2 linked regions of the Homo sapiens genome follow. The protein of the gene in region 1 interacts with the protein of each later gene in a pairwise test. Each region holds a gene or a part of one and is shown in the gene's direction. Other genes may lie near its edges.

What was found.
Region 2: the proteins of IGF2BP1 (region 1) and STAU1 interact in binary tests that used the Homo sapiens proteins (3 or more experiments, as listed by UniProt).

The regions. Positions count from the first base shown.
Region 1 is NC_000017.11:49,049,385-49,056,384, forward strand, and holds the end of IGF2BP1 (insulin-like growth factor 2 mRNA-binding protein 1), read left to right. Parts: coding exon 1-60; 3' UTR 61-6,761; downstream 6,762-7,000. UniProt on the Homo sapiens protein: RNA-binding factor that recruits target transcripts to cytoplasmic protein-RNA complexes (mRNPs). This transcript 'caging' into mRNPs allows mRNA transport and transient storage.
Region 2 is NC_000020.11:49,176,949-49,186,330, reverse strand, and holds part of STAU1 (double-stranded RNA-binding protein Staufen homolog 1), read left to right. Parts: intron 1-7,086; exon of another isoform or gene 7,087-8,033; intron 8,034-9,382. UniProt on the Homo sapiens protein: Binds double-stranded RNA (regardless of the sequence) and tubulin.

The DNA.
Region 1 (7,000 bases):
CAGGTTAAGCAGCAGCATCAGAAGGGACAGAGTAACCAGGCCCAGGCACGGAGGAAGTGACCAGCCCCTCCCTGTCCCTTCGAGTCCAGGACAACAACGGGCAGAAATCGAGAGTGTGCTCTCCCCGGCAGGCCTGAGAATGAGTGGGAATCCGGGACACCTGGGCCGGGCTGTAGATCAGGTTTGCCCACTTGATTGAGAAAGATGTTCCAGTGAGGAACCCTGATCTCTCAGCCCCAAACACCCACCCAATTGGCCCAACACTGTCTGCCCCTCGGGGTGTCAGAAATTCTAGCGCAAGGCACTTTTAAACGTGGATTGTTTAAAGAAGCTCTCCAGGCCCCACCAAGAGGGTGGATCACACCTCAGTGGGAAGAAAAATAAAATTTCCTTCAGGTTTTAAAAACATGCAGAGAGGTGTTTTAATCAGCCTTAAAGGATGGTTCATTTCTTGACCTTAATGTTTTTCCAATCTTCTTCCCCCTACTTGGGTAATTGATTAAAATACCTCCATTTACGGCCTCTTTCTATATTTACACTAATTTTTTTATCTTTATTGCTACCAGAAAAAAATGCGAACGAATGCATTGCTTTGCTTACAGTATTGACTCAAGGGAAAAGAACTGTCAGTATCTGTAGATTAATTCCAATCACTCCCTAACCAATAGGTACAATACGGAATGAAGAAGAGGGGAAAATGGGGAGAAAGATGGTTAAAATACATAATAATCCACGTTTAAAAGGAGCGCACTTGTGGCTGATCTATGCCAGATCACCATCTTCAAATTGGCACAACTGAAATTTCCCCACTCTGTTGGGGCTTCCCCACCACATTCATGTCCCTCTCCCGTGTAGGTTTCACATTATGTCCAGGTGCACATAGGTGGTATTGAATGCTCAGCAGGGTAGGGGCTGACCACTGTCCCTGATTCCCATCGTTCTCAGGCGGATTTTATATTTTTTTAAAGTCTATTTTAATGATTGGATATGAGCACTGGGAAGGGGACGCTAACTCCCCTTGATAAAGTCTCGGTTCCATGGAGGACTTGAGTGGCCCCAAAGGCTGCCACGGTGCCCTCACCCCAGCCCATGTGCTCCCATAAGGGCTGGTTCCTAGAGGCAGGGGTTGTGGGGCACTCCCAGCCACGGCACTGTTACCTTGGTGGTGGGACTTGGAACCCAACCCTGAGCTCCCGATAAAGCTAAAGTCCATCATCTGGCAAATTCAGTAAATTGGAGAGTACTTGCTTCTGTTTGTATCTGAGAGGAATTTTTAACTGACGGCTTCTGTCTCCATGAATCATTATCAGCATGATGAAAGGTGTGTCTAAAAAACAATTCAGAATACCAGCAGCATTGTACAGCAAGGGGTAAATAAGCTTAATTTATTAATTTACCAGGCTTAATTAAGATCCCATGGAGTGTTTAGCCCTTGTGGGAGACAGAAGCCATCAGTTAAATGAGGTTAGGCCTCTCCTCCTAATATACTGATTGACAATGCATATTAGCCAGGTAATGCACTTTAGCTACCCTGGACAATGCTATCAAGTGTGCTGGGAAGGGAGGAAGGCCTCTCTACATATGGAAAAGCCCATGCGTGGAGTTCCCCTCCTTTCAACATTGCAACAACAGTAACAACAAGACAACCGCAACATGTGGGCGTAGTCAGGCAATGCTGTGTGCGAAGTAAACTACCTCAAGGTATGAAGTTACCTCAGCAATTATTTTCCTTTTTGTTCCCCCCAACCCCATTAAAAAAATTTTTTTTTGATTTTTGTTTTTTTGCAGCTTGCTGATATTTTATATAAAAAAGAAAAGCAAAGCAAAAGAGAAGCTGATAGTCTTGAATATTTTATTTTTTTAATGAAAAGAAAAAACAAGAAAGTTATGTTTCATAATTTCTTACAACATGAGCCAGTAACCCTTTAGGAACTCTCTATGGAGAACAGGCCTGGTGGGAAAGGCTTTGGGGGCTGCCCCCTTAGGAGGAGGCTAGTGCTAAGAGGGAAGGCCCAGGTTTGAGAGAGCCCAGAGGGGCAGAGCCCAGAGCCTTGTTTGGCCCTGATCTCTGACTTCTAGAGCCCCAGCTGCTGGCGGCTGCTGGAATATCCTACCTGATAGGATTAAAAGGCCTAGTGGAGCTGGGGGCTCTCAGTGGTTAAACAATGCCCAACAACCAACCAGCTGGCCCTTGGTCTCCTCTCTTTCCTCCTTTGGTTAAAGAGCATCTCAGCCAGCTTTTCCCACCAGTGGTGCTGTTGAGATATTTTAAAATATTGCCTCCGTTTTATCGAGGAGAGAAATAATAACTAAAAAATATACCCTTTAAAAAAACCTATATTTCTCTGTCTAAAAATATGGGAGCTGAGATTCCGTTCGTGGAAAAAAGACAAGGCCACCCTCTCGCCCTCAGAGAGGTCCACCTGGTTTGTCATTGCAATGCTTTTCATTTTTTTTTTTTGTTATTGTTTCATTTCAGTTCCGTCTTGCTATTCTTCCTAATCTATATCCATAGATCTAAGGGGCAAACAGATACTAGTTAACTGCCCCCACCTCTGTCTCCCTGTCTTCTTTAGATCGGTCTGATTGATTTTAAAAGTGGACCCAAACTTAGGGAATTCTTGATTTAGGGTGGCTGGTGGCAAGGAGGGGCAGGGGATATGGGGACGTGACTGGGACAGGTTCCTGCCTTATCATTTTCTCCCTAGGACATTCCCTTGTAGCCCCCAGAATTGTCTGGCCCAAATTGAATAGAAGCAGAAAAACATTTAGGGATAACATCAGGCCAGTAGAATTAAGCCTCTCCACCTGTCCCAACCATAAAAAGGGTCTCCCAGCTTTCCATCTCTGGCTCTATATGCTTTATCCCAAAACAAAGCAGATAACGTTCAGACGTCGGCCATTTAGTAATTTAAAGCGAATTTCCAGCAGCAAGCATGCTTTGATATCTGGTTCAGACTATCATCAGGAAGAAAAAAAAATCCCACAGTACCTGAAATGTGATTGTTGCAGTGTTCAGTTTCCTTGGGGGCCTGCTCCCTTCACACCTTGAGCCCAAGTCCTTTTCCGTTGGCTGATTCAGCTCCCAGAAGAGACGAGGAAGTGTGTGGCAAGGGACTGGAAAACTTCACTTGCTTGGATTAGGCAAGGCTCCACTCATTGTTGATATTTGCCCAGCAGGAAAATCATGTAAGTTATACCACCAGAAAGCAAAAGGAGCATGGTTTGGTGGTTAAGGTTTAGTGGGATGAAGGACCTGTCTTGGTGGGCCGGGCCCTCTTGTGCCCCGTAGGCTAGGTCTTAGGGCAACTCCTTGCCCTCCTGCTCAGCACCTCCATTTCCCCATCCTTGGTGAGATAACAAGCTATCGCGAAAAGCACTTGGGAGATTTGGATGATTTGAGAAGAGTGACTTAAAAAAAATGCTTCTGTGCTCTAAGATATATATGTGTGTGTGTGTGCTACATATATATTTTTAAGAAAGGACCATCTCTTTAGGATATATTTTTAAATTCTTTGAAACACATAACCAAAATGGTTTGATTCACTGACTGACTTTGAAGCTGCATCTGCCAGTTACACCCCAAATGGCTTTAATCCCCTCTCGGGTCTGGTTGCCTTTTGCAGTTTGGGTTGTGGACTCAGCTCCTGTGAGGGGTCTGGTTAGGAGAGAGCCATTTTTAAGGACAGGGAGTTTTATAGCCCTTTTCTACTTTCCTCCCCTCCTCCCAGTCCTTATCAATCTTTTTTCCTTTTTCCTGACCCCCTCCTTCTGGAGGCAGTTGGGAGCTATCCTTGTTTATGCCTCACTATTGGCAGAAAAGACCCCATTTAAAACCCAGAGAACACTGGAGGGGGATGCTCTAGTTGGTTCTGTGTCCATTTTCCTCTGTGCCAAAGACAGACAGACAGAGGCTGAGAGAGGCTGTTCCTGAATCAAAGCAATAGCCAGCTTTCGACACATACCTGGCTGTCTGAGGAGGAAGGCCTCCTGGAAACTGGGAGCTAAGGGCGAGGCCCTTCCCTTCAGAGGCTCCTGGGGGATTAGGGTGTGGTGTTTGCCAAGCCAAGGGGTAGGGAGCCGAGAAATTGGTCTGTCGGCTCCTGGTTGCACTTTGGGGAAGGAGAGGAAGTTTGGGGCTCCAGGTAGCTCCCTGTTGTGGGACTGCTCTGTCCCCTGCCCCTACTGCAGAGATAGCACTGCCGAGTTCCCTTCAGGCCTGGCAGACGGGCAGTGAGGAGGGGCCTCAGTTAGCTCTCAAGGGTGCCTTCCCCTCCTCCCAACCCAGACATACCCTCTGCCAAACTGGGAACCAGCAGTGCTAGTAACTACCTCACAGAGCCCCAGAGGGCCTGCTTGAGCCTTCTTGCTCCACAGGAGAAGCTGGTGCCTCTAGGCAACCCCTTCCTCCCACCTCTCATCAGGGGTGGGGGTTCTCCTTTCTTTCCCCTGAAGTGTTTATGGGGAGATCCTAGTGGCTTTGCCATTCAAACCACTCGACTGTTTGCCTGTTTCTTGAAAACCAGTAGAAGGGAAACAGCACAGCCTGTCACAGTAATTGCAGGAAGATTGAAGAAAAATCCTCATCAATGCCAGGGGACATAAAAGCCATTTCCCTTCCAAATACTCGACAATTTAGATGCAGAACATTTCTCTGTATTCAGACTTAGAGTAACACCAGCTGAAAACTGCAGTTTCTTTCCTTTGGATACATAAGGCTTCTCTATCGGGGTACGGGACAGGGAGGAGGCCTCATGTCTGAAGGGGGATTTAGGGGCGAGAGCCCCAGCCCTGACCCTCGGTCCTGTGCACCGCTTTGGGGCACAGTCTGATGGCGCCTTTGCTGGCGCCTTAGTATGGTTGACTCCGGATGGACAAAAGAAAAAAAATTTTTTTTCTTGAATGAAATAGCAGGAAGCTCCTCGGGAGCATGTGTTTTGATTAACCGCAGGTGATGGATGCTACGAGTATAAATGGATTAACTACCTCAATCCTTACAGTAAGATTGGAACTAAGGGCAGGGACTCATGCATAAGGGTATGAATCCCAGCCAGGACAAGTGAGTTGAGGCTTGTGCCACAAAAGGTTTGTCCTTGGGGAACAGGCAGGCCTGCCAGGATCCCCCCCATATCGATTGGGCTGGGAGGGCTGGCCATGAGGTCCCCACTTTCTGCTTTCCTTGCCCATGTGTCACCCCTTTGGCCTCCAGCTTGTCCCTCTCTCACTTTCTATAGCTTTGTTGGACCAGATGGTGAGGAAAGGAATGGCCTCTTCCCTTCTAGAGGGGGCTGGCTGGAGTGAGACCTGGGGCTTGGCCTGGAACCCACCACACAGCCCCAAAGTCAGGAAGCCTGGGGAAACCAGAGCTGAGACCTCTTCAACAGGGTTTCTTTGAGATCCTACACCTCCATTGGGCCCTTTTTCAGTCTTCAATGGGGGCCCAGTTGGCTCTAGAAGGAGAAGAGGTGAAGCAGGATCCTTTGCCCTGGGGGAGTCTGAGGGCGCGGTCCTTGGACTCATTCAGGCCGTCTTTGTAGTTGGGGGAGTTCCACTGGGCGATCCCAGCCCCTCCCCACCCACCCTCTAATGGACCTCCTCATAGAAGCCCCATTTCACTTTTGTTTTATCTACCTCTTAGCAAAACAATAGATAAATTAGGTAGTGGCAGCTCCACTTGCTTAGGTTAGGGGGGGAAAAAGATTTCTTTTTCCAAAGGAAAAAAATATTACCTTGAGAATACTTTCCAAAAAATAAAATTAAAAAAAAAAAAACCAAAAAAAAAAATTTTTTTTTAAAAGGGAGACATTTTCCAGTGACCACTGGATTGTTTTAATTTCCCAAGCTTTTTTTTCCCCCATAAATAAGTTTCACTCTTTGGCGATTTTCTTCACTTGTTTAAGATAACGTGCTAGCTATTCCAACAGGTAACAGCTTTCACAGTCTGCCCCTGGCCTGTCTCACCCCATCCCCCACCCTATTCCTGCCAGTGAGTCCTTCCTGTGCTTCTCTCCCTTCTCCCCTCCCAGCCAGCTGACTTCAGTCACCCCTGTCCCCCCTCCCCTGCCAATAAGCTCCCCCAGGAATAAAGGCTTTGTTTTGGGGATGCTTAAATCTTGACTGGCACTTCCCGGCTGTGGGGGCTGGGGAGCCACTTGTAACATTTCTGTGCAGATTTTATGTTAGCCACTGCTATGTAAAAGCACGTTCAAAATGAATTTCAGCAGATTATGTGTTACCATAATGAATAAACGTCCTCTATCACCATTTGGAGTCTCCCTTTTCTCCAGGATCTTGATCCTGGTCCCCAAAACCAGAGTGAATCAAAAGAGCTTCCTCCCCTGAGGCAAAGTGGATTTGTAAGCAGTTCTGAAACATCACTTACTCAGAAGAGGGAACGATGTATTTTGATGAGTGCAAATTGGGAAGAGCTGGAGGCCTACTGCTTGGGACAGTTTTTTTTTTTTTTTTTTTTTTAAATATGAGTGCTAGCTTATTCTGTAATTGCGGCAACTTTGAAAATTGTATTTTACTGGAAATCTGCCAGCCATCACCACCCGATTTTGATTGTATCCTTCCTCCCATCCTTTAATCTGTTCATTGCTTTGGGGGAGGTGGGGCAGCTGGCTCACACGTTGGAGTTTGTTCTTTGATGGATGAACGAACACTCCAGTTTTCTTTCCCGTGAAGGTTGTTTCAGCCACAAACCACTTCATTTTGCTGTTTCAATTTCAAAATAAAAGGAAACTTATATTGAAAGACAAGTATGTCTGTGTCTCAGGGTTTTTGGGTCTGGGAGCTGAGATGCTCAGCCTCAGCATGGGAGCCCTGGTTCTCAGGGACCTGAGTCATCCAAATGCAAAGTAGGCATTTTTCTTAAATGTACAGAGGAGTGGTTTTTAAATGGTGCCCTGCTCTTAATTAGCTTTGCATATTGGGAGGGGGGCAGGTCAGGTGTTTGGAATGAGGACTCCAGCATTAAAGAAGATGTTGGGACATCACT
Region 2 (9,382 bases), on another chromosome or scaffold:
GCTGTCGCCCAGGCTGGAGTGCAGTGGCGCGATTTCGGCTCATTTCAACCTCTGCCACCCTGGTTCAAAAGATTCTCCCGTCTCAGCCTCCCGAGTAGCTGGGATTACAGACGCCCGCCACCGCGCCGTGTTAATTTTTGTAGTTTTCGTAGAGACGGGGTTTTGCCATGTTGGCCAGACTGGTCTCGAACTCCTAACCTCGTGATCCACCCTCCTAGGCCTCCATAAGCAGGTTAGGCGCGGTGGCTCACGCCTGTAATCCCAGAACTTTTGGGAGGCCGAGGCGGGTGGATCACGAGGTCAGGAGATGGAGACTATCTCTTGAGCCTGGTGTGGTGGCGGGCGCCTGCAGTCCCAGCTACTCCCGAGGCTGAGACAGGAGAATCGCTTGAACCCGGGAGGTGGAGGTTGCCTGGGCGACAGAGAGAGACTCTCTCCAAAAAAACAAAACAAAAAAAACACATAAGCAAACAACTATACAAGCAGTATAAAGCATGTCTAATACTGCCATATCACAATGGCATATTTCAATAGGGAAATGGTATTTTAAATACCATTTTTTAAAAACCTTTTATTCTGGAAAACATGCGAAACTCGAATAGTATGGAGAACCCCATGTGTTAGTCACTCACTTAGCTTTGACAATTATTAACTCATAGCCAAGGTCGGTTTTGTTTCATGTTGTATCCCCCCACACAAACTAGATTATTTTGAAACAAATCTTAAACATTGTGTCACAACATTAGCGATTTTGACTTTTACCAGATTGCCCCAGATTAAGGTCACAAAATTTACTTTTAGTAGAATAATAGTTCTCATTTTTGTTTGTTGGGCTTCCCTTCTCTGTTTATACATGATTTCTGTACAGCAGAAAAGAAGAAGAAAATTAACTCTTGATCCAATGCCTTCAGCTCCTCAAAATCAAAATACAACCTTGCTGCTTTATTGTGTACAAAAGCAAAAATTCTTGAGCTATTAATGACTATAATTGAAAAGCGAACAAATACAGATTTCCCCAGTCCTGTTTTGGCAGAGACCTGCCTTTTAACCCACTTTAATAGAGATAACTTTGTGTCAAAGTTAAACTACAGTTAATAATTCATAATGAAAACTTAAAATGTTTCTTTACAGTAGTTGTGTAAAGATACTGCTGTTACCTTAGGTTAAGAATTAAGCAAAAGATAATCTTCTAACATAGAATTGTTTTCCAAAGTGCCCCCGTCTGCCCTATTTCCAAATAACAAATTTAGCAAATATGAATGAAACCTTAATTTTTGTGAATAGTATGAAATCACAGCATAAGTGTTCACGTTTTTCTTTCTTGTGTCTAAAGGATCTCTCTTACAATGGAAGTTGACAGGAATATTATAAATATTATAAATGTCTTTGTTGCATAACTTTCAAATTTCTGGTCGTGAATAGTTTTCAGCTTTTAGGTCTGTTATTTGAGTTTTGTAGGTGTACTTTGAGCTTGATCAGGTACAGTGGAAATGTTACATGTTATGTTTTAGTTATGACTACCTGGAAGATGGGGAAAGATACACCTCTTAAAATTGATTTAGGAAAGAAACGCCAATTTAGTATCTGGGAAAGGACACAACACATTTTTAAAAATGTGTAGTGCTTCCCATTAAGCTTAACGTAAAACTTTTAAGCATTGAGAATTGTTACCATAAATATAGTTTCTTGAGAATAAGTTGCTCTCTTTTAGGTTTCAGCCAGAAAGTCCATGTATATACAGATTACAGCAGGTCCTTGAATAATGTTGTTTCAAGATAATGTTGAGAAAAAAAACTGTCTGTGGAGTTTACACGTTCTCCCTATCCCTGCATGGGTTTTCTCTGGGTACTCTTGATTTCCTCCCACATCCCAAAGCTGTGCACGTGAGGTTCACTGGTGTGTGGAGCTGTGTGTGTAAGTGTGAGTGCTTTCTGCAGTGGATGTCCTGTCCAGGACTGGTTCCGGCCTTGCACCCTAAGCTGCTGAGATAGGCTCCAGCCACCCCAACCCTGAACTGGAATAAGTGGTAAAAAAAAAAATTTTTTTTTTTGAGATGGAGTTTAGCTCTTGTCACCCAGGCTGCAGTGCAATGGTGCAGTCTCGGCTTACTGCAACCCCATGCCTGTAATCCCAGCACTTTTGGAGGCTGAGGTGGGCAGATCACCTGAGGTCAGGAGTTGGAGACCAGCCTGGCCAGCATGGCGAAACCCTGTCTCTACTAAAAATAAAAAAAATTAGCCGGGCTGGGTGGCGGGCACCTGTAATCCCAGCTACTCAGGAGGCTGAGGCAGGAGAGTTGCTTGAACCTGGGAAGCAGAGGTTGCAGTGAGCGGTTATCGTGCCATTGCACTCCAGCCGGGGCAACAAGAGCAAAAGTACTTCTCAAAAAAAAAAAAAAGGCATGTATACTTCACATTTATTTCAGTGTTTAATATTCGAAGTGTTTGGTCTTTATTTAAAAGTTTGGTGATATTTTTCTGATGAGAAATATGCCCTAGAACCTAACTCTTGTTTGTATCAATAAGCGTGTGTTAGTCGGAAGTCTCAGTTTCCAAGAACCTACCCCTTATGTTAAGAGAGGATTTACTGTATTTTAAGTTTAGAAATGGCCATGACTCATGGAACTCTCCTCCATCCCCATTCTAAAGTCCAGATCATTGATATCATTCTGGGTGTTATCAAAATGGATACTGCTTCATCCAGTCTCTCTCCCCAATACCACAAGGTAGTCTCAGTTTGTGGGGCAACTTTCTTTGAGCCTTTTTACTGGATTGAGTAAGAGTGTAATTCAGTATAAAGATGAAACTTTCATGAAAAGGGTATCTTTTTGTGGGATTCCACAAGTCAATCCCAGAGTTTGTCGCCCAGGCTGGTCTTGAACTCCTGAGCTCAAGTCATCTTCCCACCTCAGCCTCCTTAGTAGCTGGGATTATAGGCAGAGGCCTTGTTTTCATGAGCCTCTAAATTGGATCTTCTTATTTGATGTGATACCCAGTGACACAGAATTGTTCAATTTGAGGAAATATAAATTCCTCCCCTCTCAAATAAGAGCTTTGGAGTTGCTTTTCTCTCAGAATGGGATTTTAGAGCTTTCAAAAATGTTTAGAGAATTTTATGACAGATTTGTTTCACACTAGACCTATAACAGGTTATTTTACATTGACTTCTGGTGATGGAGACATTTGTGGTTGAAATGCTTCTCGTGTAATTTTCTACATGAGCTTTTCTTTAAATAAAACTTCACCAGAGTCAAGGCTGTATACCATTTGTGCTGTTCCAAAAAATATAAATTGCCAGTTATCAGTTGAACTATGAGAGGACATGTTAGTTGCTATGGTTATTTACCCCCACCATTTTATTATGAAAAATTTCAAACATATAACAAAGTTTATGAAGTTTTATTGTACATCTCTTTAGATACCATCTACTTTCTATTTTTGCCTCCCTGTTTCATGGTGCTGAACACCGTCTACTATTTTTTTTTTTTTTTTTGAGACGGAGTCTGGCTCTGTTACCCAGGCTGGAGTGCAGTGGTGTGATCTCGGCTCACTGCAAGCTCCACCTCCTGGGTTCATGCCATTCTCCTGCCTCAGCCTCTCGAGTAGCTGGGACTACAGGTGCCCGCCACCATGCCTGGCTAATTTTTTTGTGTTTTTAGTAGAGATGGGGTTTCACCGTGTTAGCTAGAATGGTCTCGATCTCCTGACCTTGTGATCCGCCCACCTCGGCCTCCCGAAGTGCTGGGATTACAGGCGTGAGCCACTGTGCCCGGCATACCTTCTGCTCTTTGTCATGAACATTTTACCATACAGTATTATGAAGCTTGAATAATGTTGGCCAAATCCATTGTTCTCACCTGCTAAGGAGATAATAGGATTATAAATATATAGCTGTGTTGATCTTATCAAATGCCACGGGATGGATGGGCTTGGATATCTGTCTTGTTGACAGCTTAATGCTCTGAACTAGAAAACCTTACTGCAGAGAAAAGTAATATTTTTAAAGTGGTAAAATGGGAATTACTGCAAATAGCTTAATTTGTTTTTTAAGTGTTTACATTCCCATACTGGTGAATAAGGTTGATGTAACAGTGATTTATGTCACCAGATAAATGGAAGTAGAGAAAAATTTCTGCAGGCTGTTAATTGCTGTATATTTTCTGGGATTACATATGTTTATTTGTTAAAGAAGTAGACTCAGGGAACTCCCTCAAAGTATATTTACTGGAAGCAAAAGTGGAAAAATCTATTTGAGAAAGTGTTTGCTTTCGATTAAAAATTAGTCTTCTGAATATCAAATCTGTAACCCATCTGGCATCTGTTTAATCTGGAATCTAATTTGGGAAAGAAGTGTGATGACTATGTGGGTTTATAACAGTAATGGAAGCAAAACTGGCCATTTTATTATGATAGAAATTTTGTGTCATGTCTCCCAGACAATAAAGGCTAAGAAAATCTATTTAAATACATTGGGGTCTTTTCCCCTGAATGAACATGATTGCTGAGGGTTAAACCTTCATTAGATTGCCTCTGCTTTTTTTTTTTTTTTTTTTTTTTTTTTTTTTGTTGAGATAGTCTTGCTCTGTTGCCCAGGCTGGAATGCAGAGGTATCATCTCGGCTCACTGCAACCTCCACCTCCTGGGTTCAAGCAATTCTCCTGCCTTAGCCTCCCGAGTAGCTGAGACTACAATTGAGCACCACCACGCCCGGCTAATTTTTTGTATTTTTAGCAGAGATGGGGTTTTGCCATGTTGCCTAGGCTGGTCTCGAACTCCTGAGCTCAGGCAATCCGCCTGCCTTAGCCTCGCAAAGTGATAGGATTACAGGCTTGAGCCACTGTTCCCGGCCTTGCCCCTATACTTGATGTAGCTACAGAACTGGTTGCTCAGTGAGTGGGTTGGTTTTAGTCAGCATATTCTCTGATCCTATTTAAAATTTTTTACAAGTGGAGTGTTGCTGTAAGTTTTATAGATGTTTATGTGTAAGGACAGGTTTAGTGAATTTGCTGGATAATAATATTTACTGCTATTGAGCTCTTACCATGTGCCAGGTTAGAATTACAGGGTGAAAGTTATTTTATGCAGAAAAGGAATTAAAAGGTCAGGTTGAATTTACCTAATAATATAAAAGTTGCAGTTCATTTAGCTCTTTCCTTGAACCAAAGAAAAGGGTTTCTTAGACCCTTTATGTTGTATTTCTAATACTCATAAACATCTTTGCAGCGTAAAGCTCATAATAATTGCTGAGGATGCTGATGCGCTTCCGAGGGGCCAGATAACTGGCTCAGAGTCCTGAGGCACCAAGTATTAGTTCTAGAGCACAGGCTGGTCTGGCTCCAAAGTCAGTGTTCTTTCCACTGAACCATGCTTTGTCTCTAAATTATGCTTAGGTGCTTTTTGTTTAGGATAATTGATTCTGCTTGTCACTGGTGGCCCTCCCCTGACTCTCCCCACCGCAGCAGCTAGGATGAATTTTGCTCATTAGAACCCTAGATCAATTTGAAAGAAAGTCTGGTTAAGTAATAGTCTTTTAGATGGACCCTTGAAATAGCTTTCCAGTTTACTTTTATTTGTTATGTCAAATTAAGCTAAAACTTAAAGCTGATCCACAGGTTTGTGTGTGGGGAGGGGCTGTCTTATTAACCTTTGTGTTAAAGGAGGCCAGCTCCTAAATTACTGCTATCGTGTGTCATCAGGTTTGTTAAAAATTGCTGGCATGGTGGCCCACGCCTGTAATTCCGTCACTTTGGGAGGCCAAGGCAGGCGCATCACCTGAGGTCAGGAGTTCGAGACCAGCCTGGCCAACATGGTGAAACCCCATCTCTACTAAAAATACAAAAATTAGCTGGGTGTGGTGGTACGTGCCTGTAATCCCAGCTACCCCGGGGGCTGAGGCAGGAGAATGGCTTGAACCCGGGAGGTGGAGTTTGCAGTGACCTGACATCGTGCCGCTGCACTTCAGCCTGGGCAACAGAGCAAGACTCTGTATCCAGGGGGGGAAAAAAAAAAAAAGAACTGTAGTCCAGGTTGTTGCTAAAAAAAAAAATTCATTTCTTCTGAATTCTAACATTCTGCTTTAGTGGAAATGAGTTAACTAAGCTTCCAATTAACTTTATAGGATAGGTGCTGGTTGTCCTCTTTGCTTCCTAGCCCTTTCTAACATCCCTCTTGTGGCTAATACTGTTGGGAGTATTTAGTACAGCTTCCTGTTTGGAATTGAACTGCTTCCTGAACAATTTTGTTTTACTTTTGTTTGAAACGGTGATCTGAATCAGAAGCTTCTTTGGTATTCCACCTGGGCAGTCTTCTCTTATGGTTAGTCTTGAAAGGCTGGATCAGTGAAATTAAATCTGCCTTTGGATGTGAGCTTTTAGTGAAATGGTGTCTGAAGTTCCATTTTGTGTTTAACCTCAACTGAGGCTACCCTGTAGTCTGTAATGACATAGCATGTCTCATTAATCACTAATAGGTGTTGGAAATACCCCTTGGCATGAAGTGAGCAGATAATGCTGCTTACATTGTCACTATATTAGCTCCCTTCAGAGATGAGCTTTAGGATCTAACTAGATCTTGTCTGATTCTCTCCTATCTTTGCTGTTTTGAAATCCATGCCTTCTATAGATTACAATTAACTGAGGCATGAATTTTCTACCCTTGCAGATTCCACCCTGATTCAAATAGGGCCATTGTCTGCTGAAGCCATTGTGATTTTATGCAGAATGCTAGGCAGTCCTTTCCTCTGTCAGAAAGAACAATTTATATGTAATAATAAGTCTCATTATGCTTGGAAGCTTATTTTCCTTGTTGCACAATTGAACCAACCTGCTCATGAAAGCTCCATGACCCTTTACCTAGATGACAGTCAAATATAGTTAGGCAAATAAGTTTCCTTTTGGTTTGTCATTGAGTAAACCTTTGCAACCTGTAATGTTTAGCAAGTGACTACTTCTGTATAGTAATTTTCCTTTTAGTTGAGAATTTATTCAAGCACCAAACATAAAAAAGAATAAAAGTGAAATAAGCTTTCTTTTGCATAAGGGACTTTCTATAATTTGCTACTTTTTATCTTCTTTTTTTTTTTTTTGAGGTGGAGTTTTGCTCTTGTCGCCCAGGCTGGAGTGCAGTGGCGTGATCTCGGCTCACTGCAACCTCCACCTCCCAGGTTCAAGCGATTTTCCCACTTCAGCCTCCCGATAAGCTGAGATTACAGGTGCGTACCACCATGCCTGGCTAATTTTTTTTTTTTTTTTTTAGATGGAGTCTTGCTCTATCGCCCAGGCTGGAGTGCAGTGGCGCGATCTTGACTCACTGCAAGCTCTGCCTCCCGGGTTCACGCCATTGTCCTGCCTCAGCCTCTGGAGTAGCTGGGACTACAGGTGCCCGCCACCATGCCCAGCTAGTTGTTTTTTTTTTTTTTTTTTTAGTGGAGACGGTGTTTCACCGTGTTAGCCAGGATGATTTTGATCTCCTGACCTTGTGATCCACTCGCCTTGGCCTCCCAAAGTGCTGGGATTACAGGCGTGAGCCACCGCGCCCGGCCATGCCTGGCTAATTTTTATATTTTTATTTTATTTTATTTTTGAAGCAGAGTCTCGCTCTGTTACTCAGGCTGGAGTGCAGTGACCCAATCTCAGTTCACTGCAACCTCTGCCTCCCGGGTTCAAGTGATTGTTCAGCCTCAGCCTCCCAAGTAGCTGGGATTACAGGCATGTGCCACCATGCCAGACTAATTTTTTTTTATTTTTAGTAGAGACAGTGTTTCACCATGTTAGCCAGGCTGATCTTGAACTCCTGATCTCAGGTGATCCACCTGCCTTGGCCTCCCAAAGTGTTGGGATTACAGGTGTGAGTCACTGCGCCGGCCTAATTTTTGTATTTTTAGTAGAGATGGGATTTCACCATGTTGGCCAGCCTAGCCTCAAACTCCTGACTTCAGGTGATTGGCCCACCTTGGCCTCCCAAAGTGCTGGGATTACAGGCCTGAGCCACGGTGCCTGGTTTAGTATGCATTCTTGACTGGGGAAAATTGCAGTGGTAAGTGTGCACTATATAGATATATTGATAATGATCATGATGGCTTTGGATTATCTTTTGAAATTGGAGGATTTCAAAAAATAGATTTGCATATGGAAATGTGCATTTTTGTTGGTTTTTTGAGATGGAGTCTTGCTTCATTGCCTAGGCTGGAGTGCAGTGGTGCACTCAGGGCTCACTGCAGCCTCAATCTTCTGGTCTCAAGCAGTCCTCCCATCTCAGCCTTCCAAGTAGCTGAGACTACAGGTGCATGCCATCATGCCTAGCTAGTTTTAAACTTTTTGGAGAGATGGGGTCTTCCTCTGTTTCCTAGGCTGGCCTTGAACTCCTGGGCTCAAGCAGTTCTGTCTTGGCCTCCCAAAGTGTTGGGATTACAGGCGTGAGCCACCACACCTGGCCAAAACATGAATGTTTGTATGAATCTCAGCTATCACTGTGTAAAAGTATTTGAGATCCAAATGACTGCTGTATTTCTCCCCTCTCTCTCTCTCTTCTTTCTTTGCTAAGTTGATGATGGTTATTTTTTAGCATTGTCTTTATGTCTGACTCTAACAGCTCCTTTTTCCGTTCTTATATTTAGCTTTTTTTATGTGTGTTTTAAAATTTTTTTTTTGTTTTTGAGACGGAGTCTCACTCTGTCATCCAGGCTGGAGTGCAGTGGTGTGATCTCGGCTCACTGCAAGCTCCGCCTCCTGAATTCATGCCAGTCTCCTGCCTCAGCCTCCCGAGTAGCTGAGACTACAGGCGCCCGCCACCATGCCTGGCTAATTATTTTGTATTTTTAGTAGAGACGGGGTTTCACTGTGTTAGCCAGGATGGTCTCGATCTCCTGACTTCGGGATCTGCCACCCTCGGCCTCCCAAAGTGCTGGGATTATAGGCGTGAGTCCACATGCCCGGCCCTTAAATTTTTAAATTTTATTTTAATAGAGACAGGGTCTTGCCATGTTGCCCAGGCTGGTCTCAAACACCTGAGCTCAAGCGATCCACCTGCCTCGGCCTCCCAAAGTGCTGGGGTTACAAGCATGAGCCATCACACCTGGCCTTTATTTTTTACTTCTGCTTTGGGCTAGAAAACTGAACACCCTGGGCCAGGTGCGGTGGCTCACGCCTGTAATCGCAGCACTTTGGGAGGCCGAGGTGGGCGGATCACGAGGTCAGGAGATCGAGACCAGCCTGGCTAACATGGTGAGACCCATCTCTACTAAAAATACAAAAAATTAGCCGGGCATGGTGGCATGCACCTGTAATCCCAGCTACTCGGGAGGCTGAGGCAGGAGAATCGCTTGAACCCGGGAGGCGGAGGTTGCAGTGAGCGGAGATCACGCCATTGCACTCCAGCCTGGGCAA